Linked DNA regions of Homo sapiens: all the other regions are reported to be linked to region 1. The links are microRNA targets in miRTarBase. Many come from high-throughput screens and were not tested one by one. Region 1 holds a microRNA gene; each other region holds the end of a gene's coding sequence.

Region 1 (6,409 bases):
ACGTATATTATGAATTAATATTACCATTGATATTATTAAGACTGATGTTTAATAATTAATAATATTAAGACTGTTTAATAATTAATAATATTATTATTCCTAATACCGCAGGGGATGTACACCTACCTGTGATAGTTTCTATTATCCAGGGATGGTGAGCATGATATTAGTTTTAATATCACAGTAGGTGTACACTCACCCTGTGACACTGATCCTAATATCCAGGGGGTAGAGTATGACATGACTCCCAACATAGCAATGAATGTACAGCCACCCGGTGATATTGCTCCTAATATTCACGGAAGAAGTGTATGATATTACTCCCAATACCGCAGGGAGTGTACACCTCTTCTGTGATATTGTTCCTAGTATCCTGAGGGGGAGAGGATGATAATAATTCCAGTATCGCAGGCTGTGTCCACCCACCCTGTGATATTGTTATTAATATCCTGAAAGGGAGAGGATGATATTACTCCCCATGATAGGTATTACTCCCCATAATAGAGCAGGAGGTGTACACCCACCCTGCGATATTGTTCCTAATATTCAGAGGCGGAGAGGTTGATATTACTCCCAATATCGCAGGAAGTGTACATCCCCGTGTGAGATGGTCCTTAATAATATTCCAAGGCGGAGGGGGTGATATTACTACATATATCGCAGAAAGTGTACACACCCCAGGGATATTGTTCCCATGATCCTGGAGGGAAGAGGATGATATTACTTTAAATATCACAGACGGTGTACACGCCCCCACTGATATTGTTTCTAATTTCCACGTGGGAGAGGAGGATATGACACCCAATATCGCAGGGAGTAGAAACACTCCTGTGATACTGTTCTGAATATTCAGGGAGGAAGAGGATGATATTACTCCCAATACAGACGGGTGTACACCCTCTGTACACGGAGGGTGTACACTCGTCTGTGAAATAGTTCATAATTTCCAGAGGGGGAGATGATATTACTCCCAATATCGTAAACAGGCTGTGAGTCCACCGTGGGTCGTAATAACCAGGATGGGAGAGGGGCTGGCTTTTACTCCCCGTATGGTGGGGGGTGCCTCACCCCTTTGCGATGTGGGTCTTAATAGCCGGGGAGGGGGGGGGAGGGGCTGGCTCTTACTCCCCGTATTCACCCTTATCTGGCCCCACCCGCATCCTGCTGATTGTTCCATTTTACAGAGAGCTGATTGGTGCATTTACAAACCTTTAGCTAAACACAGAGTGCTCATTGGTGCGTTTTCAGTCCTTTAGCTAGTCACAAAAGTTCTCCATGCCCCCACCTGATTAGCTAGACACAGAGTGCTGATTGGTGCGTTTACAAACCTTTAGCTAGATAGAGTGTGCTGATTGGTGCATTTACAATCCTTTACCTAGACACAAAAGTTCTCCAAGTCCCCACTCCATTAGCTAGACACAGAGCGCTGATAGGTGCATTTACAATTTTTTAGCTAGACACAAAAGTTCTCCAAGTCCCTACCTGTTCCAGAAGCCCAGCTGGCTTCACCTCTCACTGTCACTCACTGCAGGACTTTTCTGCACCTAGCCCGGGCACTCTGGCAGCCCAGAGCAAGCTCATTCCCTGATCTAGCCCAGCAGGCACCGGCAGGACGCACTGAGAGTGGGGCTCGTGGAGCCTGCACCCACCGGGAACCTGTGTTGGCCCGCGAGCACCACATGCAGCCCTGGCTCCCGCCTGCACCTTTCCCTCCACACCTCCCCAGGAACAGAGGGAGCCGGCTCTGGCCTTGGCCAGCCCCAGAGAGGGGCCCACATGGTGCAGCGGCGGGCTGAAGGGCTCCTGGAGCGCAGCCAGAGTGGATGTTAAGGCGTAGGAAGCGCCAAGAGCGAGCCAGGGCTGCTAACACGTTGTCACCTTTCAATAGTGTCTACTTCTAACCATTTGGAAAATACAATCATGTTTTGTAGTCAATTTGAAGATGACATACCCAGATTTTTCAATAGATTAACAACAGATTTGATAAATTATAGTAGAGTATCTCTACATATCCATTTTACCCCATGTTTATCTGATTTGCTCTTCCATGTTTATTTACATCACTTTTTACTTTTGCATTCTACCCAAGGGTATTTGCTGGAGTAGGTAGGAATGTTAACTCCCATCTCTAATAATTTCTGAAATTGCATGATCCCTAAGGAAAAATATGGTCATGTACTGTACTTCTATATTAATAATGCTTTTTACTTATGGAAATTTGACAAGCCATTGAAGGGTAGAAATGATTAGTATGTTGGATATAATGGAAAGTACTCTCTACTTAACTGATTCTTCATTTGTTTTATTGCATTAAGGGGAATAGAGCTAGCAATGAATTTACCTCTGCTTGAGTTTTATTCCTTTGATCTCTTGCTTCATGGAATCTAGCTCTTCCTTTCTTTTAATGATTCAGTAATTGCTTACCATTCCATTTTTCTATCCTTTGACCTAAGCTAACTAGTTTTTTTCAGTAGCATAACACTACAATAACTGTTATTTCTACTATTTCCCTTTAGAGTTATACAAGTATAATGAGGAGTCCATTGAATTGTATTTTAACTGTATAAATACACAAAAATGTGAAATGTTGAGAAGTGAGTCAAGTTTATATGTTGCATGTAATGTATCATACATAATGTGTTTCTCATCTTAGATTTTCATAGGACAACATCTTCAACCTGTAAAATGATATTTTGAGGAGAGCAGACATTTCAGTGAGTCTAATTTTAAAGTTAGGTGTTTATCTCTAGGGTTGATCTATTAGAATTACTTATCTGAGCCAAAGTAATTCAAGTAATTCAGGTGTAGTGAAACACTTCTAATTTTAAATTCAGAAGCACTGAAGAGTGAGTTGGATTATTGGCTGTAGCACTTACTTGATCCTCTTTCTTATCACCCTTGACTTTTAAAGCCTGGCTTTAAAAAAATATATGCTTCAGAAATTCATGTGCTCACCAGCATTTGATTCATTAATTTTGAAAGACTATTACAAAGGACTCTTAGCGATGATAAGTTTAGAGATACCAAAAACCCAAGTCTGAACTTTGACAATTAAAAGACATGTAAAAATGCCAGAATGAATCATAGGTTCCAAAGTAAATCTTGGGTAAAGGTGACATCATAACAAGCAAGTCATAGGCAAGTCACAATTGCTTTTAAGTCTAAATCCTCACTCAGTGACTTCTTCGATTTAAAGGTGGGGAGAGACTAAAGAACTTTCATTTTGTCAGTGTTACATAGGTTTTCAGTGTATACATTTGAAAGACTTTTATCTTTGTGATTCATTAGCAAGTGTTTCAAAAGGTTAAAGAGAACACAGATTTTATAGGTATCAAACTAAACTTCTATGTGTCAGGCCTCTGAGCCCAAGCTAAGCCATCATATCCCCAGTGACCCGCACGTATATATCCAGATGGCCTGAAGCAACTGAAGATCCACAGAAGTGAAAATAGCCTTAACTGATGACATTCCACCATTGTGGTTGGTTTCTGCCCCACCCTAATCTCCCCCACCCTTACAAAGTTTCTTTGTAATTCTCCTTATCCTTGAGGATGCACTTTGTGAGATCCACCCCCGCCCCCAAAACATTGCTCTTAACTCCACCGCCTATCCCAAAACTTATAAGAACCAACGATAATCCCACCACCCTTTGCTGACTCTCTTTTCAGACTCAGCCTGCCTGCACCCAGGTGAAATAAACAGCCTTGTTGCTCACACAAAGCCTGTTTGGTGGTCTTTTCACACGGACACGCATGAGGCACTATGTGACTAGGCACTTAATGTTGATTTTGGAGACCTAGGGATAAACTTAGTTAACTTTTTGGATATCCTCTTTCCTTTCTCCCTGCCTCCCTCCCTCTCTCCTTCCTTTCCTCTTTCTCTCCTTCTTTCTCTCATTTCTCTTCTTTAATATGTAACAGCATTTAGCAAGAGTTGGGTTAACATTTCTGGCATTATTATAATCACAATTTCCATCCAGTATTCCTTATTGCAGTGTATTTATGTGTGTGTGGTATAATGTGTATACCTACAGATACACACTAATATGAAACATATAATATATAATTTTATACTATGGTAGAATTGATACTAAAAAACACTGTTTAATATTAAAGAATTACTTATAAACTGAGTTTTTAATGCTTACCAAATTACATTCCAGTACTGATGTAAACTGTTTTCAAATGGGAAACAACAAAAAGTTACACATTTTAGTGCATTATTACCAAAATAAAATATATTTAGTTATCTTTGTCTTCCAATTTTTTATAGCTTGCTGTTTACTCTCTACTGTGTTGGCACAGTAGAGATTAGAAATACATCATTATGCTGTTTTACATGTAAATAATTCTGAATAATAATAATTCTGAATAATTCACCATTCCACTGGGGAAACAAGCCAGAAACTACTACTTGATATAGTCCTTAGATGGAACTAGAATTATTACAGGGAGAGGAGAAGGGAAAAAAGGTGACTTCAAGATAGCTAAGAATTTTAAAAAACAGAGAAGGGACAGAACAGCTCTGATGTGTTAGAGTGAGTGGAGAGAGAGCCCTTTTGCGAGAGAAGGGGCTCTTGGACTTGGTGGGAGGCAGTCTGCATGCAGATGGCTGTGTCCCCATCAGGGAAGATTTGAACAATTAGTCCAAGTGGTGGGTAAACAAGTTTCTAAGCAAAGAAAAAATAAATTTAGTTAAATGAGAGGAATAAGTTCAAGAGACCTGTTGCACAATATGGTGACAATGAATTGTATTCTTGAAGATTGCTGAGAGTAGATTTTAAGTATTCTCACTACACACACAAAATAGCTGTGTAAGGTAATGCATATGTTTATTAGCTCAATTTAACCATTCCACAATGTATACATACTTCAAAGTGTTATGTTGTACATGATAAATATATAAAATTTAATATGTCAATTTAAATAAATATGTTTTTAAAAATAAGAAAACATCAACCCTGAAAAAAAGAAAAAAATAAGTCACCAAATTTCAGAAAACAAAAAAAGAAATATGCTAAAAGTAAAGCAATGTAAAGCACATCTCAGGAAAGTGAGTATGCACAGACTTTGGTCCTACTGCATACTTCCACTTCTGCCATTTATTGCAGTCATTGCTTATTGACCATAAGGTTTTTCCCTCTAGAGTGTCGACTTGATTAGCCCTAGAAATATTCACAAGCCAGTACTCCCAGAACTCATTATTAGTGGCACATAAGATGAAACTTATTTATCATCTTAGAAATAATGTGTAAGATAAAAGAAGAATTATAGATAGAAATCACTAACGTTAACCTTTTTAACTTGCAATAATATAAATAAACCATTTTATTTTATTTATTTTATTTTCCTGAATGGATAGATTATTCATTACAAAATAATGGGGGTTTGCCTACTACACAGAGTTTATATAATTGTGTTCTTATATTATGGTCTACACACTACCTTCAGCAGTTTCTCCAGAGTCCTCTGCTAAAGGTATGCTAAATGAAAACCCAGGGTATTCAGGTGAGAACCTTGAATGAATCTGTTACACAGAAATGTTTGGAAAGTATGAGTAACACTCATCTGGGTACCTTTCTGAGTATCAACACTGAAATAGCAAATCCTGATAGAGTCAACCTGGGTAACTTACTGTTCCTTAACACTGTAATACTTACGGAGTTTAATTCACAGCTCTAGAGGCACCAAATATAATGGATGAGATAAAATGTAACACAAATACATGCACAAGTATATATGTACTTATACAATAAGAAAATAATATATTGACATAACTGTATTGTTTTTGCTGTTTACTACCAAAGCTGCAGACTAGATGACAGTGAACACTTGACCAGGCATAATCATGCAGGGCCTCCTCCCTGGACCCCCTTTCTCTTTTGGCCTGGTGCTGCTGTGTCACTGTGTTAGTCTTATTCCTTCTGCTTATGTGTTCTATAAGCTTAATAGAGTGCTGCCCCTTGTAAGTTCTTAATAAAGACTTGTTAAATTCAATTGTGCTTGATTTTCCCCTTTGGCTAAACAAAACAAAATAACACACCATCCAGGGCTGTGAAGAAAGGAATGCTTTTTGTTATTATTATTTTTATAGCTTTTCATAGGTAGCCAGATTAGATTCAAGCCATTTCTTGTTTAACATCAAATTCAAAGCTACCAATAACCAAGCTATATCATAAAATGTAAAGGTACATCCCTCTATATTTTTCTTCATTTCCCCCCCACATATATATTTTAGCTTTTGTGCCTTTCCTCGCCTTATTACATCTGCCTGAAACATCTTTCTTCTCCTTACGTTCTTTTTTTAATTTAAATTTAAAAAAAAACTCTAGAAGTTATTGTGTTACAGATGGTATTTGGTTACACGAGTAAGTTCTTTAGGGGTGATTTGTGAGGTTTTGGTGCACCCA
Region 2 (6,409 bases), not on the chromosome of region 1:
TAAGTGAAGACTCTGGGAGGCAGAAACAGTGAGGGAGCTGGCTGAGCACAAGAGGAAAGTGCTGCTGTTTCATAAACTCTGATGTATTCTTTGGATGTCCTGCTAGAAATGTTGGGAAAACATCACAGCCTGCATACTTCAGCACTTTCAGGAAAACTTTTATCCTCTGTCCTGCTCCATTTTTGGCTCACTTTGAAAAATACTAAAACAGTTTGTGCTGTATTAAAAATTTAAAAAATAGTCATATAAATGAATAGACTTATGAACAATTTAAATTGTTTATGTATTTTGCATGGGTAGACTTCTAAGAAGGGCTTCTTGGGAGGCAAACCATTACCTGTGTTCCCCCATGAAAGGGCTATAGGTTAGTACATACCCTGTTAGCCCATAGGAGTCTTATTGGCCAAGGTGTAGGGATCACTCTGAGTACAATGGCCTTTCCCTGAGCTTAGGTAGGTCCTGAGGTACTTACTCAAGTCCAGGGATCATCCTGCTCTCTGAGGATAAAGGTATCCATAGTGACACCTTGGAGACCCTGGAGACATCGATGAATTTGACACTTCCAGGATCTTTTGGAGGTATCGTGTTGTTGGCAGTGATCTTTGTGTACTTCTCTGCCACTTCCTTTCTTTGGGGCTGGGACATTCAGAATTCCCTCCCAACCTCCAACTTTGTCTTGTCTGTTGGGAAGGTGATTCCATTCACAGAAATCAGTCCATCCATTTTGTGTGCACACTCTCCCCTTGTCCTTGTCTTTTCTGCCTTTGCTCCAACATCTAACATTCCTCCTCTTGCCTTTGCAGGCCTTTTTTTTCCTTGTTTTCAGAAGCCCTCCCCTTTTACCCACAAGCATTTTCATCTTTCTTTTCTTACTGTAATGCAGCCAAGACAGACAGAGAGGGAGAAGAGAGGACCACCACTGTCAAGGCCCTCCTTTTAGCCCCCAGCAAACACACTATTCCAGAGGACACTTTGACCTCCTTTAAGCTTGACTCTGGCTGATATTTCCAATTTATAGCATTTTAGTAGTCCTGGCATTCTCAGAGGCTTACTTCATCCATCTTTAATACAAATTATATTTCTGTCATCAGAACCTGAGGTTGACAAATGTGCATAAGCTAGTGGCTGGAGGTGCCACTAGGTCTGGCTGATTTATTTCAATACTTCTATGTATTTGAAATATCCCCAAAATAGGCCTGTCTCTCTCTCTGTTGCCTTCTCCCTAAAAAGTTACTGTATTTTAGGCTTAGTTTTATCTTACAACAAAGCAGACAGGAGAATTCAAAGTGTCTAAAAACCTGCTGCCATCCAGCAGAAATGAGAAACCCAGGGCGGCGCGCTCTGTTTAGCATCCTAATGTGTGTTTCCTTTTCTATGCAGGCTGGTTACATGTCTGGGATGCTGGTGCCTGTAGGGGTTGGGATAGCTGGAGCCTTGTTCATCTTGGGAGCCCTCTACAGCATTAAGGTTATGAATCGCCGAAGGAGAAATGGCTTCAAAAGGCATAAAAGAAAGGTATGGAACCAACAACAGCAAAACCTAATCAGTTTCAGAACATTCTTTGCTTATCTAATTTACTTAATAAAGCACACGGGGTTTAATGATGCTTGGGTGGTATTGACGTGCCCAGTGGTCTGGATTAGCTGCTGTAGCTCCTGCCTTGGCTTCGTTTGTTAGCATGTCTTTTAAAGTGGGCCTGTTTCTCAGCTTTGCTCTGTGGCAGAAAGAGTTTAATGCTTTTCTGTTTTCTTTCTCTAGCAGAGAGAATTCAACAGCATGCAAGATCGAGTAATGCTCTTAGCCGACAGCTCTGAAGATGAATTTTGAATTGGACTGGGTTTTAATTGGGATATTCAACGATGCTACTATTCTAATTTTTATTTTGGAGCAGAAAAAAAAAAAGAACAACCTGCCACATTGCTGCTATCAGGCCGTTAGTCCTAGTGTCTGCTGGGTGCTGGGTAGTAGATTTTTCTTGTACTGAGCAGAAATGGCATGTTGTATACTAAACGTATCATGCAGTATTTGGTTTTATTCTGTAGTGAATTTTCCACAACCGTGGGCTACAACTCATAAATATGCAACATATATGTTTTTCAGTAGGAGTTGCTACATTAGGCAGAGTAAATATTTTGTAGTTTTCCACAGTGTCTTTTCCTTGGTTTGAATTACCTGCATTGAGAATAATGATTGTTGCCACCAAGGCATGCTTGACTCTGAGATATAAATCTTAACAAAGAATAACTTCTCAAGATATACTCTACCTACTTGAAACCACAGGGTTGTGGGCCATGGTACATACTGCATTTGCATCAAACTAGCAGTAACTCAGAATGAAATCATTTTCATTAAGAAGCTCTCTCAGCATATTAGGATTATATGTAGATTTGTATGTATTTTGCATTATGTACTTCAGTCTCCTAGTTTTATTATTCTCACCTTCCGTTTTATTCTTGGCGAGGAAAAAAATGCACTAGAAATAATACATTAAACTGACTCTTAGTCTTAATGTACGTTTGCTGTCTTAAATAGTGTGATTGAGTCCAACAGACTCAATCATACATGTCATACATGTTTATGATTAAGAGATATTCTTTTTGTGTGCTAGTTGATTTTGCCGAGAAAAAATGAAGAAGAATTCAAGAATGAGATGAGGGTAGGTAAGCTCTCAGAGCATTTCTGTCTGCCATTTGGTTCTATGCTTATGTGGCTGCTAATGTGACTAATTCAGAGTGTTGTATTTCCACATCTGTGGACTCCACCATGGAAAAGGTGGGCTACCATTGGTCCTTATATGGCTTTATTAGAAAAATAGACATTCTATCGTTTGTCTGCCCAGTGGCCAGAGTCCTGGTGAACAACAGAGCTCATGGGAAACCAGCCTCTCTCAGGGCACCCCGCTATGAGGATATTGAAATATGTTCAATCATTTCTCATCTCCCTTGGAATGTAATTCCCTGCCCTATACAAAATAGGATATTCCAATGCGCTATTTGAATCTAGGGATTGAGGATTTGTAGTTGAGTTTTGGGGTAAAGGCTTGGCTCATTGCCATGGAAGAATAAAAGTTATTTATTAATAGTGCTGTCACTGTGGAGTACTTGTTGGTGTTTATTAGAAGTTGTCTACTATGTTCAAGAAAAGTTGCACAGTTATTCCTCAGAGCTACTATGTGAGGTAGGACATATGTTTTTATTCTCCCATTTGACTGAAGATGGAACTGAAGCAGAGAAGTGAAATGATTTTCCAAAGTTGTACCCAGAGAGAATCAGCGTGAGAACCCACTTGGACCCAGCCATGCACCCTTATCTTCAGTTCAGTAACCTTTTCATAGACTTTGGTGGAAGCAGTGACATTTCAGGGTCCTTCTTTAAAACAAAGGTTCTAAGGGAATAGCAGGGAATAGCTGCCTGGTCAAGGAACGTTTGATGTGAATTTCCATCTTTGTTAAATGAATGATGCCTTTCTAATTTCTCTCTTACTCACACACAAGTTCTTTCCTTCCCCATCTCAGTTATCAGTTATTTCCTTTACAGTCATACATTTGAGTATCACCTCTATGGAACTAATAAACCTTCCTAGAATCCGTTTTTGAATAATGTCTGGCTCACAAGAACATTTTCATCAAATAATTTTAACTCTTTTTGCCAAGAGATGTAAGCAAATATGTGAAACTGATCAAGAGAAGTGAAAAGCTCTGTACAGTCAAATAGAAGTTAGCAACTGGCAAATTAGCTCAAGGTCAGATTTTAAAAATAGAATTCAGAATCATGACACTCAGAAGTGATTTGTAATTTCACGAGTAGAGACATCCTGATATTGCATAAGGGATGTTTTCCTTTTCTAAGAGCAGCCCTTTGCTGTAAGTGTTTCTAAGGTTGGGAGTAAGTGAGCATGGTGTGGCATTACTGTCTTTGTATTCTTGACAAACTATTTGTTGAGAATACGTCGTAGGCCACTTAACTGAGTAGCACATGGGTGATACTAGTGGCCATTATTGCCTTGGGCTACTCAATCTATAGTCTTAACTAAACCATGGCTAATAGGTTGAATCTTCAAACTGTAGTGTAATAAATTCCCAAATAACAGACCCATATTTTCATTTCTCAGAGGTCCGTGAGGATGACATGTATGTGAATTTTGGCTTAACACAGTATCTCTGTGGTCCTTTTTGGGACACATGATTTCTTAAAGGAAAAGATTATACTTAGAGTACATTTCTGTACAAACCCATTTAAACATCTGGATTGAGTGGAAGGTCGGTGGATGGTACAAATGACATGTTTATTTTGGCCATTTTCCTTGCTGCTGGTGGCTGTGGAATAATGATTTTCAGTGGTTGGCTTAGATTATTAAGAGGATCAGAAAAGGTTGTCATATTTTAAACAAAACCTGGGATTAGAGATGCTGCTACGAGATGGAAGTGCTGGCCAGTGGTTATATAGTGGTCCAGTTGAGAAGTAGTAAATCAGGCACTTGTAGGTTTACCCAAAATAAGTGACAAGTATGCTTATATTTGCACAATTAAAATAGAAAGTCAACTTTTTATTCAAACAACTAGGCTTAAAACATTTAACAGTGAAACAAATAAAGCTGTCTGGAAAGGAGGGCTGATTCCTGCAGCTTCAGTTGTGAACACCATCCCCACTGGACTGAGTTTACCCAGCCAGAACTGCCAGCATCCCACCGCAGGGGCAGGAACTAGGTCTTCTTCTCGGAGGGAGAGGCAGTGTTTCCAGAATTTGCAGGCTCATAAAAATCACCTGGGACACTTGTGAAACATACAGATCTCAAGGCCTTGCCCCAGACCTGATGAGTTAGAATCTCCAGGGAAGGAGCTTGGGGTATTCATGCCCCAGCAAGCTTGGGAACACAGCTAGGAGGGATCTATCTAGAGAACCACTTCCTTATGATAGAGACAAGGTCATTTAAAGTCACAATGAGATACCACCTCACACCTATTGGGATGGCTATTATTCAATAAAACAAAATATAACAATTGTTTCTGAGGATGTGGAGAAATTGGAATCCTTGTATACTGTGGGTGGGAATGTAAAATGGATAGCCACTGTGGAAAACAGTATGAAGATTCCTCAAAAAATTAAGATAGAACTACTATATAATCCAACTATCCCACTTCTGGGCATATATCCAAAAGAATAGAAATCAGGATCTTGAAGAAGTATCTGTACGCCTGTGTTCATTGCTTATGCTTATAAGCATATTATTCACAATAAGCTTATAAGTATTATTCACAATAGCCAAGATATGGAAATTGCATTGATAGATATGCAAATATCTATCAATAGATGAATGGATAAAGAAAATGTGGTATATACATACAGTAGAATATTATTCAGCCATAGGAAATAAGGAAATTCTGTCATTGTGACAATATGGATATACATGGAGAACATTATGCTAAGTGAAATAAACTAGTGACAGAAGGACAAATGCATGATTGCACTTCTTTGAGGTATCCAAAATAATCAAACTCATAAGGGCAGAGGCAAAATGGTGCTTGCCACGGGCTGGGCAAAGTTAAAGGTGGGGAGATGTTGATTAATTATGTTTCAGTTATGCAAGATGAATAAGTTCTAGAGCTCTGCTGTATAACATAGTGCCTATAGTTAACAATATCGTACTGTGCAGTTAAAAATTTGTTAAGAGGGCCGGGTGTGGTGGCTCACGCCTGTAATCCCAGCACTTTGGGAGGCCAAGGTGGGCAGATCATGAGGTCAGGAGATAGAAACCATCCTGGCTAACATGGTGAAACCCCATCTCTACTAAAAATACAAAAAATTAATTGGGCCTGGTAGCGCGCCTGTAGTCCCACCTACTCGGGAGGCTGAGTCAGGAGAATCGCTTGAACCCGGGAGGTGGAGGTTGCCATGAGCCAAGATTGCGCCACTGCACTCCAGCCTGGCGACAAAGTGAGACTCTGTCTCAAAAACAAAAACAAAAACAAAAAACAAAACAAAACAAAAATTTTTGTTAAGAGGGTAGATCTCACATTAAATGTTCTTAACACACACACACACAAACACACACACACACACACACACACACACACAAAAGAGACAAGGAGAGCAGTCCCCTGTAGGAAGAGACACTTTCCCTGGTCATGCTATCCAATAAATCACACCTGCTGTGGAGAAAGGAGAAAGGAAAACAAGGAAAGAGAAAAGGATGGAAGCTACTAGAAAAAGAATAGAAGGCTGGGATGGAGAGAAAAGGGTTTCTCCCATACCCCTGATGTCTTTTTCTCTAATTAGAAAAGACAGTGCTTTTCTTTCCAACCTCTTTAGTTTTTTCTTTCCCATAAGCTGTTTCTTTCAGTAGCTGCTAGCTTAATTTATATGCAATATTTGGAGTTAATTAGTATCCCAGGGTAACAGATTCCCTTAGC
Region 3 (6,212 bases), not on the chromosome of region 1:
AACTTTCCCTCCTGCCCTAAAACTTGCCTCCGTCTCTCCTGCTGTCTTATGCCCCTCGCTTGAATTCTTTCTTCTGAGGAGGCAAGAATTGAGGTTGCTGCAGACCCGTTATGGATTCACCACGTTAACACCCTGGCTTTGGTCCTTCCTTATCTTCTCTTTGCCTTTATTTAAACAATATGGAGTACTAAATCCTCTGATGGGTACCTGAGGGGCCTGCTCTTCCAGTTTGCAAATAGGGCACCCTGAGGCAGTATGTAGCAGGACTTCTGCTAAGAGCCTTTGAAAGAAAGATCAGGGGAACTTCCAAAGCTACCATAAATTCAACAGCTGTGACTTAGGAATATAGTGGATCATTGAAAAAAAAAAAAAGATTCTGATTTAAGAGAGCTGATCTTCAAGTTATATCCTCAGCCTGAAAACAGAGGCAGTTTTAAAACAGGGATTCTTTAGTTTTCTCTTCGGAGACCAAACAGATGAGAGCTACCACCACCCACCTCCCACAGCTCCAACAGTACCACTAAGGACTAAAACTATAAAAGTCATTCCTTAACTGATAGAATTAAAAGTAAAAACAAATGAACAAAATCTGAAATAATTAAGTTCTGGGAATACAACTGTTTAACCATTTCTTTGTATTTTTATTGATTTTTCTTTTTTAATTTCTGCCCAGTTACAACAACGAAATGGGAAACCACAATTAAAATTCACAAACCATGGCATGAAAAACAACACGCACCCCATCAGGAATTACACCAAACCCCTTTTCCTTTTTATTCATTCAAAAGAGAGTCCAATACACAAGTGTCAAATATGAGCACTGTCATTTTTTTTTTCTTAGAAGGGGGAAAAACATTTATTTTGGCAGTGCTTTGACAATTCCAGGAAGTGGTTTTGATACCACAAGTTGCAGGAATAGAAACCCTAACAAACTTGGAGGGCATTTGTTTGAGAGGCAAGGGACGCCTTGCTTAGAAAACATTCCTCTTGTGCTTAGTGAATCACCTATCGCCTCGGTGGGCTGCTGTGTCTTTCCAGGTGCTGAAAGAGAAAACGGAATTTCTTGCATAGACAGCTGAAGAGTCCTGTAGAGCAGAGTGATTTTTGTATCTCCAACCCTCCTCCCAACTTGAAACAAATTCTCAAGCTTCTCTGGAGCATCTTTTGGTCACATGACCCTCGATCATGGTAACCCTTTTGCTAAGACACATGTGACACCAAGGTTTCCTCTGACACTGCTTCTCTAGGGTTCAGATGACAGCATAAAACATCACTGGTCAAAAATATTAGATATTAAGAATGTGGGCGTTTATGTTCGTAACAGCAAATACTTTGTAGGGTGTGTCACCCAAAGGAGCATTTTTGTCATTTAATATGGTCCCCGGGGAGTTAGCCCAAAATCATACAAATAAGCCTTTTTCTAAAGACAGGTCAAAGTTGGTTAATTTAACAGTTGAGGAACCGTCTCATGCCAATTAAAAAATTCTTACTTCCCAACTATTCAATGGTCCAAAAAGCAATTAAATGTGACCATTCAGTTTTACACACATGCACACACACACACACGGAGACGCGCACACACACACGAGAACTGTGACAAAAGGATTCACCAGATTAATCTTGTGACTGTGTTCTAAAAGAAAATGAAATCTCAAACTTGAGGTGTCCTATTCAAGTATTAAAAAAATGCAAACATCGTCTGATCCCATTCGATTTTTATCATCATAAGAAATCATTCTCTGAACTGCAGGTTCTGGAGTCAGTGAAATTAATGCCTGGGGCACAAAATATTCTACAAAAATCGGTTTGTGATTTCTAGCAGGGCAGTCGCTTGCTCCTTATTTCTTTTAAAAAACATGTTGAGACTTTGTATACTGTAGCCTTCCAAGAGTCAATACTTTACAAAAGAAGTAAAAGAGTAGCGAGTACCAGCAACTCACTCTTCTTGTCTGAGGCTGGCGAGAAGCAGTCAGTTTTATACATTTTCGATCAACCCACGGAGGAGGCAAATGTAAACAGAGTTTTTTACACTCTCCGAAAAACATGTTACTACTGTAGCATATGCTGTTTGGCCCAATTAAAAGTAGAATGGAGAGCAATTTGTTTGGTTGGCTTTTTAAGTTTTACCTTGTGAAGATTTTAAAACAAGGGTATTACTAGTTCTTGGCAGGAGACCGTCCAATCAGAGGCTCTGTATTTATAAATAACCCGTGTGGGATTATGCTCTCCAGTGAATGTAACTGGAGCCTAAATTCACAACCTTAAGATCTGACAGCCAGATGTGGAAGGTCTACAAAGAGCTCTGCTAATAAGTAATATGTTTGCAAAGTGCTCTGCTAAGTAAGGTACTTATTAAGCAGAGCACTTTGTAAGATTCAGAACTGACTCCTGATTATCTTAAGCCATTAAAAGACTCAAGTTTTGCATGGACTTTTTGTCCTCTTTGGCCCCTGAGTGTGCCCCATCTCTGCCCAGCACTAATAACACGTTGGAAGAGCAAAGGATTTCCCACCAGCGTGCCAGATGATTTATATAGGCAGGGACCTTCATTGAAAAGAAGGGAAGGGACACTGTCTTAAATGCACATTTAAGGTTCTTTCTGATTATTGGCAATCTCTATGAACCAACACTTAATCCATGGGCTAACAGAGAGATTTTTTTTTTAATGTGAAGAGGATTAAAGAATAAAGAAAAAACAAAAAAGTCTTATACTAAAATAAGAAATCAGCCCCATCTTGGCACAGTTCTCATGCAGAATATTGCACCCAGTGTGAACTAACGCTAGAAGCTTCAAACTGTATAAATTTAAATGTATTTGCATATTATAAAAATAAAGATAAACATATACATATTTTACACTAGTTATGGAACAGCAATGAACGTCAGTCGATCCCTCTTTCACATTTAACAGAACTGAAATCTGAGTGCTCTAAATACTGCCACCTGTACTGTAACTATGGCTTATATGTGCACGGAAAACAAAATCCCTGAGAAGCCATTCGACTTTTTTTTTTTTTTTTTCTTTTCTTCAAGTAGCGCGCTCCTTGGAGGATCACAGTTCTGAGGTTCAGGTTGTAAAACATTTGCTCCATGTTCTCGTCCATGCTTCCCCCCACCACCCCCTCCCCACCTCTTCCCCAGTCGTCCAAAAAGCACCCTGCAAGCACGCGTTGTCACTCAAGTTCACAGAACACGCTGGGGTGAGTGCAGAGGGTCTGCCAGGTGCAAAAGATGGTCCAGGTGTTCAGATGCTCTCTTTTCTCCATGGAAATTCCACAGCCACAAACGTCACTGGTTTCTGTGCTTTTCACCAACATTCTTCCTGTATGGGTGGACAACAAGAAAGCACAGAGATGACAAAAACGTACTGGACAATGCTACCCTCAATAAGAAAAGGAAGTGATGATAGAAATCTATTTTCTGCACATATTTTCATTTCTACTTCCAGGACTCATTATAAACATGTAAATGTCAGGCAACTTATGTCCCCACAAAGGAAAGAGTCATTTTAGCAGTCTATTTGCCAAACATTTCTGTTGGTGTGTTAAGCTCAGTTCAGCTATAAGAGGGAACTGTACTAACTGGCTGTCATCACTTATTCCACTGTAATTTTATAGCTTAACTAGACCTCTAACTAACAACCCAAAACTCTAAACACGGAACTGTTTCCTTTCAATAAACACACACGGTCACACGCAGACACACACCAAATAATCCTCTAGAAGAAGGAATATATACTAAAAAGTGAGATGTCTGTCTGCCTAAAATGCATGATTTTACTTAAAATGTTATAAGTTAAGTTGTCCACGCAAATCTGGAGTCTGATCAATATAGAATGAATAAACTACTGCAGCCTCAGCAAATAAAGCGGGATTCAGTTCCGATAAAATGGTTAGAGGAAAAAATATCAAGTGTTTTTCTCATTTTTGCTTCCCTACAATGACATGTGATGGGATGTTTTTGAAAGTGGTTTTTTTTTTTTAGCAACTTTTAATAAAATATACAAAGACATTGAAAGGAAAGGAAAAAGGAGTTACGATTCGTTTCCTCCAATCCCCCATCTCTCATTAGGAGAGACGCTGATTTCATGGACACTGATAATTCAGCATCTGCCTAAACACTTCTCCAGTCCATACAAGATTCAGTCATGGGCTCATTCAAGCATGATAATAACGACATCACCAAAACAAAGCAAAGCAAAGCAAAACAAAACAAAACAAAACAAAAAAACCAAAAACCTCTCATTTACTAACTACATGCCAGGAATTAGGTTGTTCACTCTAGTGCATTATTTATCTTCAACTCCTAATAATCCCACCATGTAAGCTCCATCTTACTCAGTATTATTATTATTTTTTTTTTTTTGAGACAGAGTCTCGCTCTGTTGCCCAGGCTGGAGTGCAGTGGCGCAATCTCGGCTCACTGCAAGCTCCGCCTCCTGGGTTCATGCCATTCTCCTGCCTCAGCCTCCCGAGTAGCTAGGACTACATGTGCCCGCCACCACACGCGGCTAATTTTTTGCATTTTTAGTAGAGATGGGGTTTCACCATGTTAGCCAGGATGATCTTGATCTCCTGACCTCATGATCCGCCCACCTTGGCCTCCCAAAGTACTGGGATTACAGGTGTGAGCCACTGCGCCCGGCCTCAGCATCTTACTAGGAAGGGAACTAAGGTTCCAAAAGATGAAATAACTTCCCCAAGGGTGCATACTAGCGAGTGACAGAGCCAGGCCTTTCACTAGGGTGATCTGACTCCAAAGCTCAAAGAGAAGTTGGATATTTGGAGCCCTAGGAAAGAGTTTCACATTTCTAAGGCACTCTGCCACGAGAATTTTTTGAATGCCTATTAATATAGTAAACTCCCAGAAGAGAGGGTTTTGAAAACTGCCTCAAATTCAACTAATAATATAATCAATCTAACTGTAAGGAGGACGCCAGTGTAAAAACACACGTCTCAACCTAGCAGCTAACTTTGGTGGTGTGAGTTTTGGGTTCACGTGGGAGATGTGTTACATAAACATTTTCCCACTGAATCTGACAGACCTTCAGAAATGCAGACAGTCTGCTCCCCGGGCTACACGTAAGACTGAGAAACACAAGAATACCTAATCAAGGACACCTAGACGGAAAATCCCACTGTTCAACCAGCTTGAAAATTGTTTCACATCTATATGCCTTTTTCCACATTTGGGATCTTAGAGAAAACAACCATCAAAATCACCAACCTTCTCTGTTTCTCCCCACCTCTCTAGCTCCATAAACTTGTCCTCCTTCTTCAAGATCCATCTCAAGTACGACTTCCTGGAACTTTTCCTGATTCTTCCTGGTAGAGTTCTTTCTTCCCTGTGCTTACAAGACTCTGTTCATACACCTATCATGGCAGGTACCATGTTTCAATTATAATTAGACTCTGATAAGTTTGCCTGGTTATGGCTTTGATTCCTATCTTCTCCAAAGAGGCTATTAGGTTCTGGAGGGCAGGATTTGATTTAGTTCTTTATGTATCCTCAACACCCGGCCCAATGCCTACTAGAGGATAATTACTCAACAAAGATCTGTTGAATGAATGATGGGTCAGATGTGATGAAAAAGCCACAGGTAAAAAGTAGCCAAGATACTATGAGATCATTACCAAAAGAGGTATATAAAAAGTACTGAGGAGAGCCAGGTGCGGCAGCTCATGCCTGTAATCCCACTGCTTTGGAAGGCTGAGGCAGGCAGATCACCTGAGGTCAGGAGTTTGAGACCAGCCTGGCCAACATGGCAAAACCCTGTCTCTACTAAAAATGCAAAAATTAGCCAGGCGTGGTGGTGCATGCCTGTAGTCCCAGCTACTCGGGGGGCTGAGGCAGGATAATTGCTTGAACCCAGGAGGCGGAGGGTGCAGTGAACCAAGATTGTGCCAATACACTCCAGCCTGGGTGACAGACCAAGACTCTGTCTCAAACAAAGAAACAAAAAGTATTGAGGAGACATGAAGAACAGAGTGACTGGTTACAGTTAGGATGGTTACGGGAGGCTCCCCAGAGGAGCTGACATATGACCTTGGCCTCAGCGACCAATGGGCCTTAACTGGGTAGGAGAGAAGGGCAGCAGCCAGCCAGTGGACTGAGAGGCAGCCACGGCCCACCACGGCTGACCTCCCATGGTAAGGGAGTATCTGTGTGTTGGCAGAGTGGCTGGGTCTGATTGTGCAGGGCCTTGTGAGCCA
Region 4 (6,409 bases), not on the chromosome of region 1:
CTGTAAAACTTTCTGAGTGTCTTCATCTCTTAATCTTCTCTTCCACATGTAGTAGTATTCAGGGGTTTTTATTTATTTTTATATTTTTTTAACATCTCCCACACTTAGGAATTCATTGACTTTTAATCTGAAGGTACCTTAATTCATTCTAGCTTAGCCACTGTTCAACTCGAGAAACTAAAAACTCCACGTCACATTTTAGTTGTTGCTGTAGCTGATAAACCCCACCTGTAGAATCTTGTCCATATTCTATTACTCATTATTTTTTTTGTTTTGCACCCCAAATTAACTGATTCTTTTTGGTGATTTATCACATAGTAACTAAAAATTTATATTTATCACTAGTAAATAAAATCATTTTGATTTTAACTTTTTTTTTTTTTTTTTTTTAATTTTCAGGGCACACGTGTTTCACGTTGACAGGTTTGCTTGGGACGCTAGTAACCATGGGCTTGCTGACTTAGCCAAAGAAGAGTTAAGAAGAAAATACACACAAGTATACAGACTGTTCCTAGTTTCTTAGACTTATCTGCATATTGGATAAAATAAATGCAATTGTGCTCTTCATTTAGGATGCTTTCATTGTCTTTAAGATGTGTTAGGAATGTCAACAGAGCAAGGAGAAAAAAGGCAGTCCTGGAATCACATTCTTAGCACACCTACACCTCTTGAAAATAGAACAACTTGCAGAATTGAGAGTGATTCCTTTCCTAAAAGTGTAAGAAAGCATAGAGATTTGTTCGTATTTAGAATGGGATCACGAGGAAAAGAGAAGGAAAGTGATTTTTTTCCACAAGATCTGTAATGTTATTTCCACTTATAAAGGAAATAAAAAATGAAAAACATTATTTGGATATCAAAAGCAAATAAAAACCCAATTCAGTCTCTTCTAAGCAAAATTGCTAAAGAGAGATGAACCACATTATAAAGTAATCTTTGGCTGTAAGGCATTTTCATCTTTCCTTCGGGTTGGCAAAATATTTTAAAGGTAAAACATGCTGGTGAACCAGGGGTGTTGATGGTGATAAGGGAGGAATATAGAATGAAAGACTGAATCTTCCTTTGTTGCACAAATAGAGTTTGGAAAAAGCCTGTGAAAGGTGTCTTCTTTGACTTAATGTCTTTAAAAGTATCCAGAGATACTACAATATTAACATAAGAAAAGATTATATATTATTTCTGAATCGAGATGTCCATAGTCAAATTTGTAAATCTTATTCTTTTGTAATATTTATTTATATTTATTTATGACAGTGAACATTCTGATTTTACATGTAAAACAAGAAAAGTTGAAGAAGATATGTGAAGAAAAATGTATTTTTCCTAAATAGAAATAAATGATCCCATTTTTTGGTATCATGTAGTATGTGAAATTTATTCTTAAACGTGACTACTTTATTTCTAAATAAGAAATTCCCTACCTGCTTCCTACAAGCAGTTCAGAATGCCATGCCTTGGTTGTCCTAGTGTGAATAATTTTCAGCTACTTTAAAATTATATTGTACTTTCTCAAGCATGTCATATCCTTTCCTATTAGAGTATCTATATTACTTGTTACTGATTTACCTGAAGGCAATCTGATTAATTTCTAGGTTTTTACCATATTCTTGTCATCTTGCCAATTACATTTTAAGTGTTAGACTAGACTAAGATGTACTAGTTGTATAGAATATAACTAGATTTATTATGGCAATGTTTATTTTGTCATTTTGCTTCATCTGTTTTGTTGTTGAAGTACTTTAAATTTCATACGTTCATGGCATTTCACTGTAAAGACTTTAATGTGTATTTCTTAAAATAAAACTTTTTTTCCTCCTTAACCACAGTTATCACAACTAGCAGTTGTGATAGTTTCTAATTTCCTAATAGTTTCTAATATTAGGAAATTCTTTGAACTTTCCTAGAAGTTCTAAGAGTAGGCACATATCCATCCACCTATTCATTCATTCATTTGTTAAATATGAGGGCCCGCTCTGCCTATTCTGTAATAACCCAGTGCTTCCAGGGATAGCAATAACACTGGCTCAGCTATTCAGAAAAAAAGCTGAGTGCCTACTATGTGCAAGTTGTCATATGCTAAAATGTGAGCTTACCAAGATAACTGCAAGTGTCTGCCCTCAAGTTGCTTATAGTTTGCCACAGGAAGACCAAAATATATACTTATTGAGAGAAAGAAGATAAAGTTACGAGTGTTACAGCCCCGAATATGGTGGGTGCTTAAGCTGTTTGTTAAGCAGTTGAGTGGCAGGGAGGGAGATATTCAAGGCAGAAAGCTGATTGAGAAAGCAGTAATAGATGAGATTATAGTGGCAGGATGGTCGAAGTAGGAAAGGCTTAGAGCAAGGGCTAGACTATGTCATGTGTTCTGTGTAGAAGTGAAAATTTGTAAGCTCTAGACTTTTTATTCTGCTCGATCTAATTAGAATCAGTGAGCATAAAATAGGTTTCTAATAGCAAGAACTTGCTATTTAGATAAGGGTAAAAGCGGAAATACTATTAAACAGTCATTTACCTTGAAGAAAATATAAACAGTAGGCTTGTGAGGGTAAAGATATTTTCTTGTAGGATTTATATTTACCGTGTATCCTGTAGTTATGAGGTTGAGTGGTTTTATTTTTGCTTAAGATAACCTCTCCTGTGAGATTTTACTTTGATTGCAAAGGTTGTATTGCTTTTCCTCTTGAGACTGATGTATTTGTTACAGCAAGTTATACCTGCTCACTGTAGAAATTTGAGTTTTATAATATTTAGCCCCCTATCACTGTCACTTTTCTGGGAATACTTGAACATGAATAATTTTTGTCTTGTCACACCCTAGCCCTGTTTGCTTTGGTTAATGTCCAATGTGCAAATGCCTCATTTTCCTCCCACCCATCCTGAGTGTTTTCTTCCTCCTTACCGAAACTAAAAACAGCCCCTTCCCTGAAGGTACTGCTTCCTTTGCAGCCTATTCCAGTGGTGGCTGGTTTATTTTCATCCATATGACTCATTGTTAAGAGGTGGCGGAGGTGTTTTCCTTGTTCCTTTGTCATGTCTTCCATCTCAACCCCCACACACATCTCTTTAAAAAGAGTAACTGTCCATTCACTCTGGTAGGGTAATTTACTAAAATGTCAAATGTTTTTCCTATAATTCTCCTTGGTGAAAAGCATGGATTCTGGAGACAAATCGGAGCCCTGGCATTTATCAGCTGCAGGACTCAAGGGATGTTCCTTGTCAGTGTACCTTAGTTATCTATGTGTAAAGTGGGCCTAAAATCAGTACCAGCCTCATAGGATTTGCAATGAGAATTAAGTTAATACACGTAGAGCTTAAAATAGTGCCAGCCATGTAGTAAGTGCTCAGTAAGTTTTAGCTCTTTTTAGTGCACAGGTGGAGAGATTGCCTTAGGTGGAAGCATGCAGGGCTTCAGTACATACTAGGAGGGAACTGTTGCAGGTGGGTTGGAGATGCCCATGGTGGCAGCTTTTGGAAATTGATTTCACATTTCTTCTGTTTTCTCAGGGACATATACATCAAGGTCATCATAAAAATGATGACACATGAGGAGGTGTTATGTTTGAAGACAGGCAGAGAAGGAAAGGACTAGAGACATTTAGTCAATTAGCAGGCAATGCTAAAGACCCAGTTGAGGTGAGTGCTCATGAATTTAGAGTGCAATCATCAAGCTTCGTTCTGAGTTTTTCTGCAGTCATATTTAGCTTTCTAGATACAGTCTCAGAAAAAACCAGTTGCTTGGATTTAATCATGATTGGGTGTTCCCAGGTGAATTTGATGACGTGAGTTGAGCATGTGCACAAGGGAGTGATTAAAATGATGGACCATAGAATTTAAGCTATGTGAGAAGGGAAGTGAAGACATATGAGTGGTAAGAAACAATGAGTAACAGGATCAATATTTTGTAGACCTTAATGGGGTCATGTCATTGTTAGACTTGGGGTACTATTTAGGATGAACTAGAATGGTAATATGCAGTAGTGAGAAATAAGAATGCGTCAATTGAGGGTAAAACAGAATTGGCAACCAGAGGACAAAGCTGTCTACAAATACACTTCCCCTTCATTTTGGGCACAAAGTTAGACACATTTCCTGGCACTCTTGCAGTTAAGTGTAGACATAGGACTGAGTTCTGGCCAAAGGAACGTGATCAGAGATGTGTAGCATTTCTGGGTCTGGCCCTAAAACATCCCCATATGTGATCCTCCTTGCCTCCTTCCCTACACTGAGTTGATGAAAGTGACTGTAGTAACCTAGTAAGTCATGTGCTAAAGATAACAGAACCACAGAAAGGAAGGAGCTTGAGTCATTGCTTTGAGGAGAGCTGTCTGCTGATCAAGAACACCCACTTTAGATTTCATGTGAAGAAGAAATAAACTTCTGTAATGTTTGAGTTCTAACATTTTGGGGATTGGTGTGTTACGTTATTGTGGTTGACATTATCTAAACTAACACTGAAGCCTTCTAGATTTTGGTGATACAAGGGTTTAAACAGAACTATGGTTGTGAGAAGTTGAGATAAAATGGTGGACAAAAGTATTGGTGCGGAGGAGGCCATGGAACATCTTAATTGATACTGAAATCACCAAGAAGCATGGGGATTCATGTTAGAGAGTGATACTGAGTCAGGGGCTAAAATCTTCACGAAATGAGTGGTTTGTACATCTGAAGATGATTGCAAACAAGAAGATAGCAGGTGCTATATTCTGATGATACGTGACTCGAAGGAAAGGGTTTTGTGGAAAGGAAGGAGGACTGGTCTGCAAATAGCAATGATGAATAAAATAGGGCACCAACTTCACCTCTATGCCTGGTACTATGTGGAATGAAAGTGCAATGAGATATTTTTGCCTATCAGAGATTTGTTTGCACATTCAAACCCACTGTATGATCCTCTTCCACCCCTTGTTATTGCAATCCCCCTACTTTCTGGTCACCCACCCCTGTCTGTTGAGGGATTTGGAACTGGCTCACTGTCTCCCAACCATCCTACAATCTGGTATTATCCATAATTATTTCACATTGACAAGGATGACTCCTTATAACATCTGTGCCTCTGGTTTTATTGACCTTTTGATTTCTAATGACCTCCTTCACTCTACCTGAGTCACTCATCTCCATGGAACCTTCTTAAATCACTAATTCAGGCATATTTTCTTGCTCAATATAATCTTTTCCGCTTTCTAGTTTAGTTACTGCAGTATGTTCATCAACTCTCCACTTTCTTCCTATTTATAAGTCTCCTACTGTGATGGATATTTTCTGTTTGTTCATCCAGGACCACTCTCTAGCACACTCCAACTTGCTGTGACCTCAGAGGCTGACCTATAATGGAAGCTGTGGAGGGGAGAGCTGCATTCCTTCTAATTTTTGTTTTGTCTCAAAACACTCCACAACTTCTTATTTTATTTCACTTTTTTTTTCTACCATCCTATCACCAAAGGATGGCTCCCCTTCCTTTTGACCTTTTCCTCTTTTAGGAACTACACCTTTCAAAGGCTATCAACTCAGATCACATTATGTTTATGGCCCTTTCCTGAAGGTAGTGCTTGTAGTTAGTGCTCTGGTCTACAAGGACACCTTTTCAGCATTTTCATTTTTACGGCAGACTCTTACTTTCTGGCAATGGTTTTGGAGCAATTTGAGGACTTTGCTAGCTCAGCTTTTTTCACTTTCATTGAAGTCTTTCCACAGACTGCCCTTGCTCACCACAGAGGCTTCTAGGAGCAGTGTGAAGGACTCCTGGGTTGTTTTTGTTTTGTTTGTTTTCTTATAGGCAATTTGAAGTAGGTGCTTTGTCTTCTAGTTATGTTGAGAATGTGGTTTTCATGTGACCAGACTTCCTATTGGTGTGGCTGTGGAAAATCAGATGTTTTTATATATTATTGGTGGGAATGCAAACTGATACGGCCATTTTATAGGGGAATTTTCCAATATCTAAAAAAAACCCCACACATACGCATTTACCCTTTGATCCACCAGTCTCACATCTAGAAATGAACTCTGAAGATATACCTCCAATAATATGAAAATATACAGTACAAGGATATTCACCAAAACATTGTTTGTCATTGCAAAAGACTGGAAACCACCTAAATGCTCATATGTAGGACTTGCTCAATAAGCTATGTTATATCCAAACAGTGGAGCATTATGCAGCTCTGAAAAAAGAATGAGGAATATCTGTATGAACTATTATGAAGTATTTCTAGGATATATTATTAAGTGAAAAAAGTAAATACAAAAGACTGGTATGCTACTTTTCATGTGAAAAAGAAGAAATAAAAAATACACATCCTCGTTTGTACAAAAAGAAACATAGGAAGGATAAACTAGAAACAATGAGATAGTTATATACAAGGTATAGGTGGAAATGATGGAGAAGATGGGAATTCCTTCTAATTTTTGTTTT
Region 5 (6,409 bases), not on the chromosome of region 1:
TATTCTATGGCTTATAGAGTTATAAGGGTGATTTTTCTTTTCTTCTTGATTCCTTTCAGGATATTCCAAGTTTTCTATAAAGAATATGCTTTACTTTTACAACTAGGGAAAGAAAGACAGAAAAATATATATAACATTTAAAGGGCAAAACAATATAGCTGTTTATTTTACAGGCTAAAATATCAAGATGAAAAGCTCTGATCCCAAATCATCCATTTTACCTATATTCTGTCACTTTTACTAAAAGCAGAGTTCTACTCATCCCAGTGAAAAAAACAATGAATTAAAAGTAATTTCTGGCGTTAACCCAAGTACCGAGTTAAGACTCCTTAAGAATATAGAATTATGTAATCAACTTAGATAATTCAAAGCCCAATGATATAACTAAGTTCTTTGACGATTGAGCACACATTGTTTCCTTACTTATCTTTAAACATTCCTAGTCCAATTACTCCCTAGCATAATACCATTTATAAATGAGGATGAGTTTACAATGGTTTCTGTAACCAAAAAGTATTTCTAATATCTGTCCTCTGCCACATATTTTTAAATTATCTTTTCCATTAGCAGAAATGGGCAACATAAGCAATAAATCATGTTAAGTCTGTTGCTACAAATTTACTTTGCCAAAATTTTTGTTCAGAGGGCAGATATCTGCATTATTTAAGGACATTTAGTCATTTGTAGCTAACACCTGAAGTAAACTACCCTCAATCAATTTTTATATTTCAGTCTAGTCACTGTAGACAAACTATTTAAATCTTTTATAATTTACTTTGTGTAGTTATTTGGCTTAAAAAAAAAAAAAGAGGGCTCACATTCTATTTAAATTAAGACAATATATTTTATAAAGCCCAAATTATAGTACACTAAGAGCCAGAGGGGTCTAGGGAATTGATCTCAGTGGGTATACAGCAAAGACAAAATTTGGAGGCAGACGCTAAAGGAAGTTGAGATAAATAAAATTCAAATCAGTGTATTAACAGAACTACACAAATGTTTACAACACAGTAACTACACTTTTCAATTAGTTCATTGTGAAAACTGAGCAAAATATTTTCAACAATTTTGGGTCAACAAAAAGTATGGAATATTTTAAGACAATAAAGAGTGACTGGTGTTGAGAGTACTGAGGCTACACAGAGGTACTGAAATTCAAATCTGAAAAATACTGTGCTGGCCACACAACACTACAAATTTCTAATGGAAGAATTCCCTTTTTGATCCGCAGCTTAGGTGGTAAGTAAATAAAAAAACAGCTCAGAAAAACAGCAAAAATATTAACATTTAGGAGTCTCAAAACTTTGTATTGGCTGTGAGTCTGGGGGAAAAAAACATAAATGTCATACTACCAATTAAACTTTCAAGAGTCATCAGATTATTTAGCTTTAAAATTTTACTAAATCAGACCTTAAACTACACATTCAAAATGCTGAACTAGATAATCACATATTAAAAAGGTAATGACTCATTATCAGTGAATTACCCAGTCTGTTCTATCAAAGTAGTAGTTAAGGTCACCAAATAATGTTGGTGCCTTTGGTTCTGGAATTATAACTAGCTGTACTGTAGGAGCATCAGCGCCTAAGTTTTAAGCCAGTGGGAATACTCTGCTGCCTGGCTTCACAGGCACTGAATACACTTAAAATGGTAAGAAACTGAATGGATTTAATAAGTTTTGAATAATACAATAACCAACTGTATATTTATTATGAAGTAAAAGCCAATCTCCTACCCAATCCCTCTTCTATCAGCTGCACATTTCCAAGTAAGTGAGATAAAATGACTCAATCTAAACCACGTGAAGGAATGTATTAACATAATCCAACAAAAATGAAATAAAACAATCCAGAGTTTTGAGTGTTTTTTCACACTTGTAATAAACTGAAAAAATATTTCAATTAAAACAACCATATGCCACAAAAAGCCACTCCCATCATCCACAATACTAAAGTCCTTATACAACACTAGATAAATTTTTATATAAAACAGTAGAAACTAGCATACCATTAATTAGAAACCTCAAAATATTCAGAAAACAGTATCAAGTACTCAAGAGAAAGCTCAAGAAGCCAAAACCTCAAGAATCCATACATCCTGGTTGTTACCCTAAATTGTAATTAACTACCCACACATTTAATCATAATCAACTTTTTCAAAGATATACAAATCAATGCATCTATTTAAAAGGACTACTCTTTATAGTTCAGAACTTTACATTAACTTTTATATTCTACTCAGCAGGGTGTCTGTCTGTACTCCAAATTAGCTCTCATGTTCCAGGAAATAAATACAAACTCATATGCCTTGTGATCACTGATGGCCTGCTTATGTAATTCTAGTCCACTAAATGTTAATTCCATAGAATATGCTCTTGATTATGTAAAAACTCTAATTTCTTGATGAAATACTGTAATTCTCCAAAGGTTACAATTTTGTAAAGATATGCAATAACTGAGTATCACTCCCATGAAAGACAAAAAAAGTATAATTTTGTTCCAAGATTAACTTAGTCTCATGTATCTCTATTAAGTCTTTCAAGGATTCCAGAGAATCTTTTCATATCTCCATTTCTGGAAAGTGAAATCAGTATAGAAGTAATTTGGGAACTTGAAAATGGCATTCATTTTTTTCAGCAGATGCCAAATTTTTGACCGACATGGTTCTCACAATTACTTTGTTACCAACAGTCCAGTCAGTTAACAGGTTGTAGGAAAAGATTCGTTTTTGCAGACACTGCTAAGCTGTTCAAAGAGAAGAGAGAGAGATTAATTTAGTGATTATAAAATGCACAAATATTTAAAATATTTTGAACACTTCTTGTTGGATTATATCAGAGGTGTGACTACATTTTAACAAAAGTGGACTTTTTAAGATAAGTCTGGTCAAAGAAGTGCAGAAACAGTAAGTCAATATGATAGAAATAGTAGGTCAAAATATGATGTGTTAGTTCAATTAATGTATGAACTCCTGCCACCATCAAAAGACAAATATTAAAAAGCTACATCTTTAGTCTAGTTCTGTATTTTACCAGAGGCACATTTAGAAGAAAAACAAAAGGGTCACCCAAATACTAAATTGTTTTCAACCATTACAGTAAATAGAGCCAAACCTAGAAATTTCAAAAACAATCCATTTTATATTCCAGAAATCTCCTTTATCCATGTGCTAATCATCCAGAACACAATTTTCTAAAAATAGTAAGACAACAGTTTCACATTAATCATAACTTTTTTAATTAACAAGTAGTGAATCGGACACTTTAAGATATTGTTTACTACATACTGAAATAAACAGATCTGTTTAAATTCAGAAACCCAAACATTTACAGTAAAATGTGCTTACACATAAATATGACCAAATTTATTTAAAGCCCCTATTAGATAGATCCTAAGTACATGCAATTACCATGTAAAAACAAGACCATGAAGTTGATGTAAAAAATGACAAAATCACTAAGTCACCAAAACTAGAAAAAAAAAAATGAAATGGAAACTGAGAAAAGACAGTTAATAAAACATAAGGAACCTAACAAAGCAGCTTTAAAAATAGGCCATACTAATCCTTCCATTTTCAAAAGTTCTTATCAAGTAATTCCAAAAACTGCCATTTATAAAATGACATTCTAAAAATCTACACTTGGAATTTCAAAGTATCTCAATTCAGAAAGCTTTGACTACTGTTTCTCCCCAGCCCACAATTTCAAATAATGCAGGAAAAGTATTGACGTAAGGAAGAAAATACTCCAACAGAATGTTATAGTTTTTAGAAAAATGAACTTACTGCTTTCCAGAACCTTTTAAGACCCACAGTCAGCATTAACAATCATTTTTCCTATTTTCATCCATTATTTTCCAATATCATGTTAGAGATGAATAAATTCTTTGAGCCCATAACTAAAAGATCAACAAACCTGGTTTTATTATGACACCATATTTTTGTCATTGGTACTGCACAAAATTATATACAAAGAAATATATACAAAATGTTCAAGTATTAGTTAAATTTCAATTCAAGGCTTCTGTTTCAAAAAAGCTACATTTAACATATTTCATAAAGATAGCACAAATTAGTCATTTCAAATAATCTTTCCAACTACTTTTGGTTTATATATATATATATATATGTATATATATATATAATTCAGTAGGCACTAAAAACCCATGCAGCTGCATTGTGAGGGGCTTGCTCCTGCCCTTAGGTATAAGCAGGTTCATCACTCCAATTTGTGAGTTTGGCTACTACCCATTCATGCTCAAGTGCAGTAGTAGATGATTTTACAAAATATGCTGTGATGCACTGGAAACCAAAGACCAATTCAGGTCTCAAATCGTATTATCTAGCAACAAAACATTTACAGTTGTGCAAGAACAAGGATTCCATTTTCATAACCAAATAACAAAATAAAACATTTTATGTGTAAGATAACTTACATCTTTGGACTGCTGGAAAATACTTTTTAATTATGAACATGTTAAAAATAAAAAACAGCAGAAGCCCTGATATTACCTCTTTTTCCTCATTTCTTATACTACCTTTTAAAATAAAGCAGGAAATGTGGCCAGCAGCTGGTCCCGTCTCTTCTGCCCCAACAGCTGTATCCACTTTAGCACAAAGAAAAACAAGGATGCTAAATACGTATATACTTTATCAAGCAGTGATGTTTCACAAAGAATTTCTTAATGCCTCTTACACTGAAGGACACCATAATTCAATTTATACAACTGGTTAATAGATTCAAGGGAATAAATCCCACCTTAGGAAAATAGTACCAATCGTGTCATTTAAGTGGCCAGAACCACTCAATTTAAAAAATTATTTTAAAATAGGACAAATACTTTTGAAACACAGAGAATAAGATTCTTTGTGAAGCCTCACTTTACACGTTTTCATTCACATTTCACAACCTTCAATATCTAATCATACATATATAAATTTAACCTAAAATTTTAATACAACAAAAATAAAGATGTTCAACAATTTATTCAATCTCAGTGATAGGGTAATCACTGCTGGTCCTCAAAGAAACATTAGCCATTCTTATTCTCCAATTAACTAAAACGCAGGAGTCTCATATGTATGTTAATTTCCAACTTCTCTAATGGTGAGACATTAAAATGTTACTCCATTATAGACTGTTTCTATATCTCATACTGAAAACTAAAAGGCATTGTTGATATTTAAGAGATACCTGTCACCTCCAGCAAAATAACTATCACATTTGTGCATGCCCCAAATACTTAACTGTCAACCTCTGAAAAGTTGCCCTAAAATCGGAATTCCAATTTGCACCTTGTACAACTCGGAACTTCCATTCAACTTCACCTGTTTCACTGTCTCCAAACTGTCTCTCTATAAGCAGGTTTCAGTGTACAGTTGGAACCGATGTCATCCAAGGCCATGTCCACACTGGGGACAGAAGAGCTAGGTACACGCAAGTCTGAATAAGGGGACACATTAATAGCTATTTCAACCAGAAGAGGCATCTTAAATACATTCTTGACCAGCACAAGTCTGTTTCCAGGGTGGACAGGGCCCAAATTAGATTTCCCTCCCACCTTCCAAAACAGAAAAAAAAAAAAAAATCACACACACACAAACTGAGATGTTGCCCATTAAAGTAGACAAAGCAGCAGAGCATGAGCGTTACGGGAAGAGATGGATCCTTACCAGGTTGTGAGGCGGGAACGACTGTTCTGTAACCCCTACAACGGAGCCTGGCAGGAAGGAAATCACCTAAAAAAGAAACTGTCAGAGAGATTTAATAGTCACATGTTATCATTAGGAGTTGGTTACTGTGTCACATTCATGCTTTTAGCTAAACACTTTAAGATTCAATATTACTTTTTTTCTCTCCTCTGAAATGTGTCCGGTGAAGATGTCCCACTAAGGTAAGTTTGACATGGTGTAAGGGAGTTGAAAGGGGTAAACGCGGATAAAGAGCAGATTACTTGACCCTACATTTTAAGAGAAGACGACGCCTTCCGGGCGCACGCCGAGCAGAACTCCACCGACACCTTATCCTTGTCCACATGGAGACAGACTCCTCCCGCCGAGTCGTCCTCTTCCAGCAGGTCCTGCTTCTGCTTTCCCACCGGCAGAGCGTAGTCGTGGTCACCGGCGGGCGAGTCTCTGAAGAGCGAGGTGGTCAGCCGCAGTCCCACGCCGCTCAGCCGGCTCAGCAAGCGAGCCAGTCCAGTCTCGTTGGCTAAGACTGCCCGTAGGTAGCGACTCTCCTCCTGCAGTGCCTGTACGCGTTTGCCCAGCTCCCGATTCTCGGCCCGCAGCTCCTGGTTCTCGGCTGCCAGACCCCGGACTCGACTCTCCAGCCCCATCACGTACTCCTTCTTCTTCAGTCGATTAAGGCGGGCAGCGGCCGCCGCCGCCTTCCGGGGACTCTTTGTCGCCG

What was found. The annotated mature microRNA hsa-miR-1297 reads UUCAAGUAAUUCAGGUG and lies in region 1 at 2,789-2,805, shown strand. An mRNA with a match to its seed (bases 2 to 7 or 8) in the 3' UTR can be bound and repressed. Matches are read on the target gene's strand: a 7mer-m8 pairs with bases 2 to 8, a 7mer-A1 pairs with bases 2 to 7 and ends in A, and an 8mer does both.
Region 2: the mRNA of ARMH4 is a reported target of hsa-miR-1297. Seed matches in the 3' UTR shown: 8mer at 2,266-2,273.
Region 3: the mRNA of MFHAS1 is a reported target of hsa-miR-1297. Seed matches in the 3' UTR shown: 8mer at 3,028-3,035 and 8mer at 1,671-1,678.
Region 4: miRTarBase lists CD55 as a target of hsa-miR-1297. The part of its 3' UTR that is shown has no 7-base or 8-base seed match.
Region 5: miRTarBase lists CREBZF as a target of hsa-miR-1297. Seed matches in the 3' UTR shown: 8mer at 3,989-3,996, 7mer-m8 at 3,587-3,593 and 7mer-m8 at 2,045-2,051.

Annotation. Positions count from the first base shown.
Region 1 is chr13:54,308,377-54,314,785 of GRCh38, reverse strand. It overlaps MIR1297 (microRNA 1297), which reads left to right and starts at 2,738; the gene lies at 2,738-2,814.
Region 2 is chr14:58,000,154-58,006,562 of GRCh38, reverse strand. ARMH4 (armadillo like helical domain containing 4) reads left to right here. Exons shown (of 8, transcript NM_001001872.4): 7 at 1,381-1,515; 8 at 1,759-5,802. The coding sequence ends at 1,827. Among named protein-coding and RNA genes, the nearest start is that of SLC35F4, 140 kb to the right of the region's middle.
Region 3 is chr8:8,782,734-8,788,945 of GRCh38, forward strand. It overlaps MFHAS1 (multifunctional ROCO family signaling regulator 1), which reads right to left. Exons shown (of 3, transcript NM_004225.3): 3 at 621-3,322. The coding sequence ends at 3,289. Among named protein-coding and RNA genes, the nearest start is that of CLDN23, 84 kb to the left of the region's middle.
Region 4 is chr1:207,359,147-207,365,555 of GRCh38, forward strand. CD55 (CD55 molecule (Cromer blood group)) reads left to right here. Exons shown (of 10, transcript NM_000574.5): 10 at 400-1,820. The coding sequence ends at 464. Among named protein-coding and RNA genes, the nearest start is that of CD55, 41 kb to the left of the region's middle.
Region 5 is chr11:85,657,854-85,664,262 of GRCh38, forward strand. It overlaps CREBZF (CREB/ATF bZIP transcription factor), which reads right to left. Exons shown (of 1, transcript NM_001039618.4): 1 at 137-6,409. The coding sequence ends at 5,958. Among named protein-coding and RNA genes, the nearest start is that of CREBZF, 4.1 kb to the right of the region's middle. RefSeq lists enhancers at 5,900-6,139, 6,250-6,409.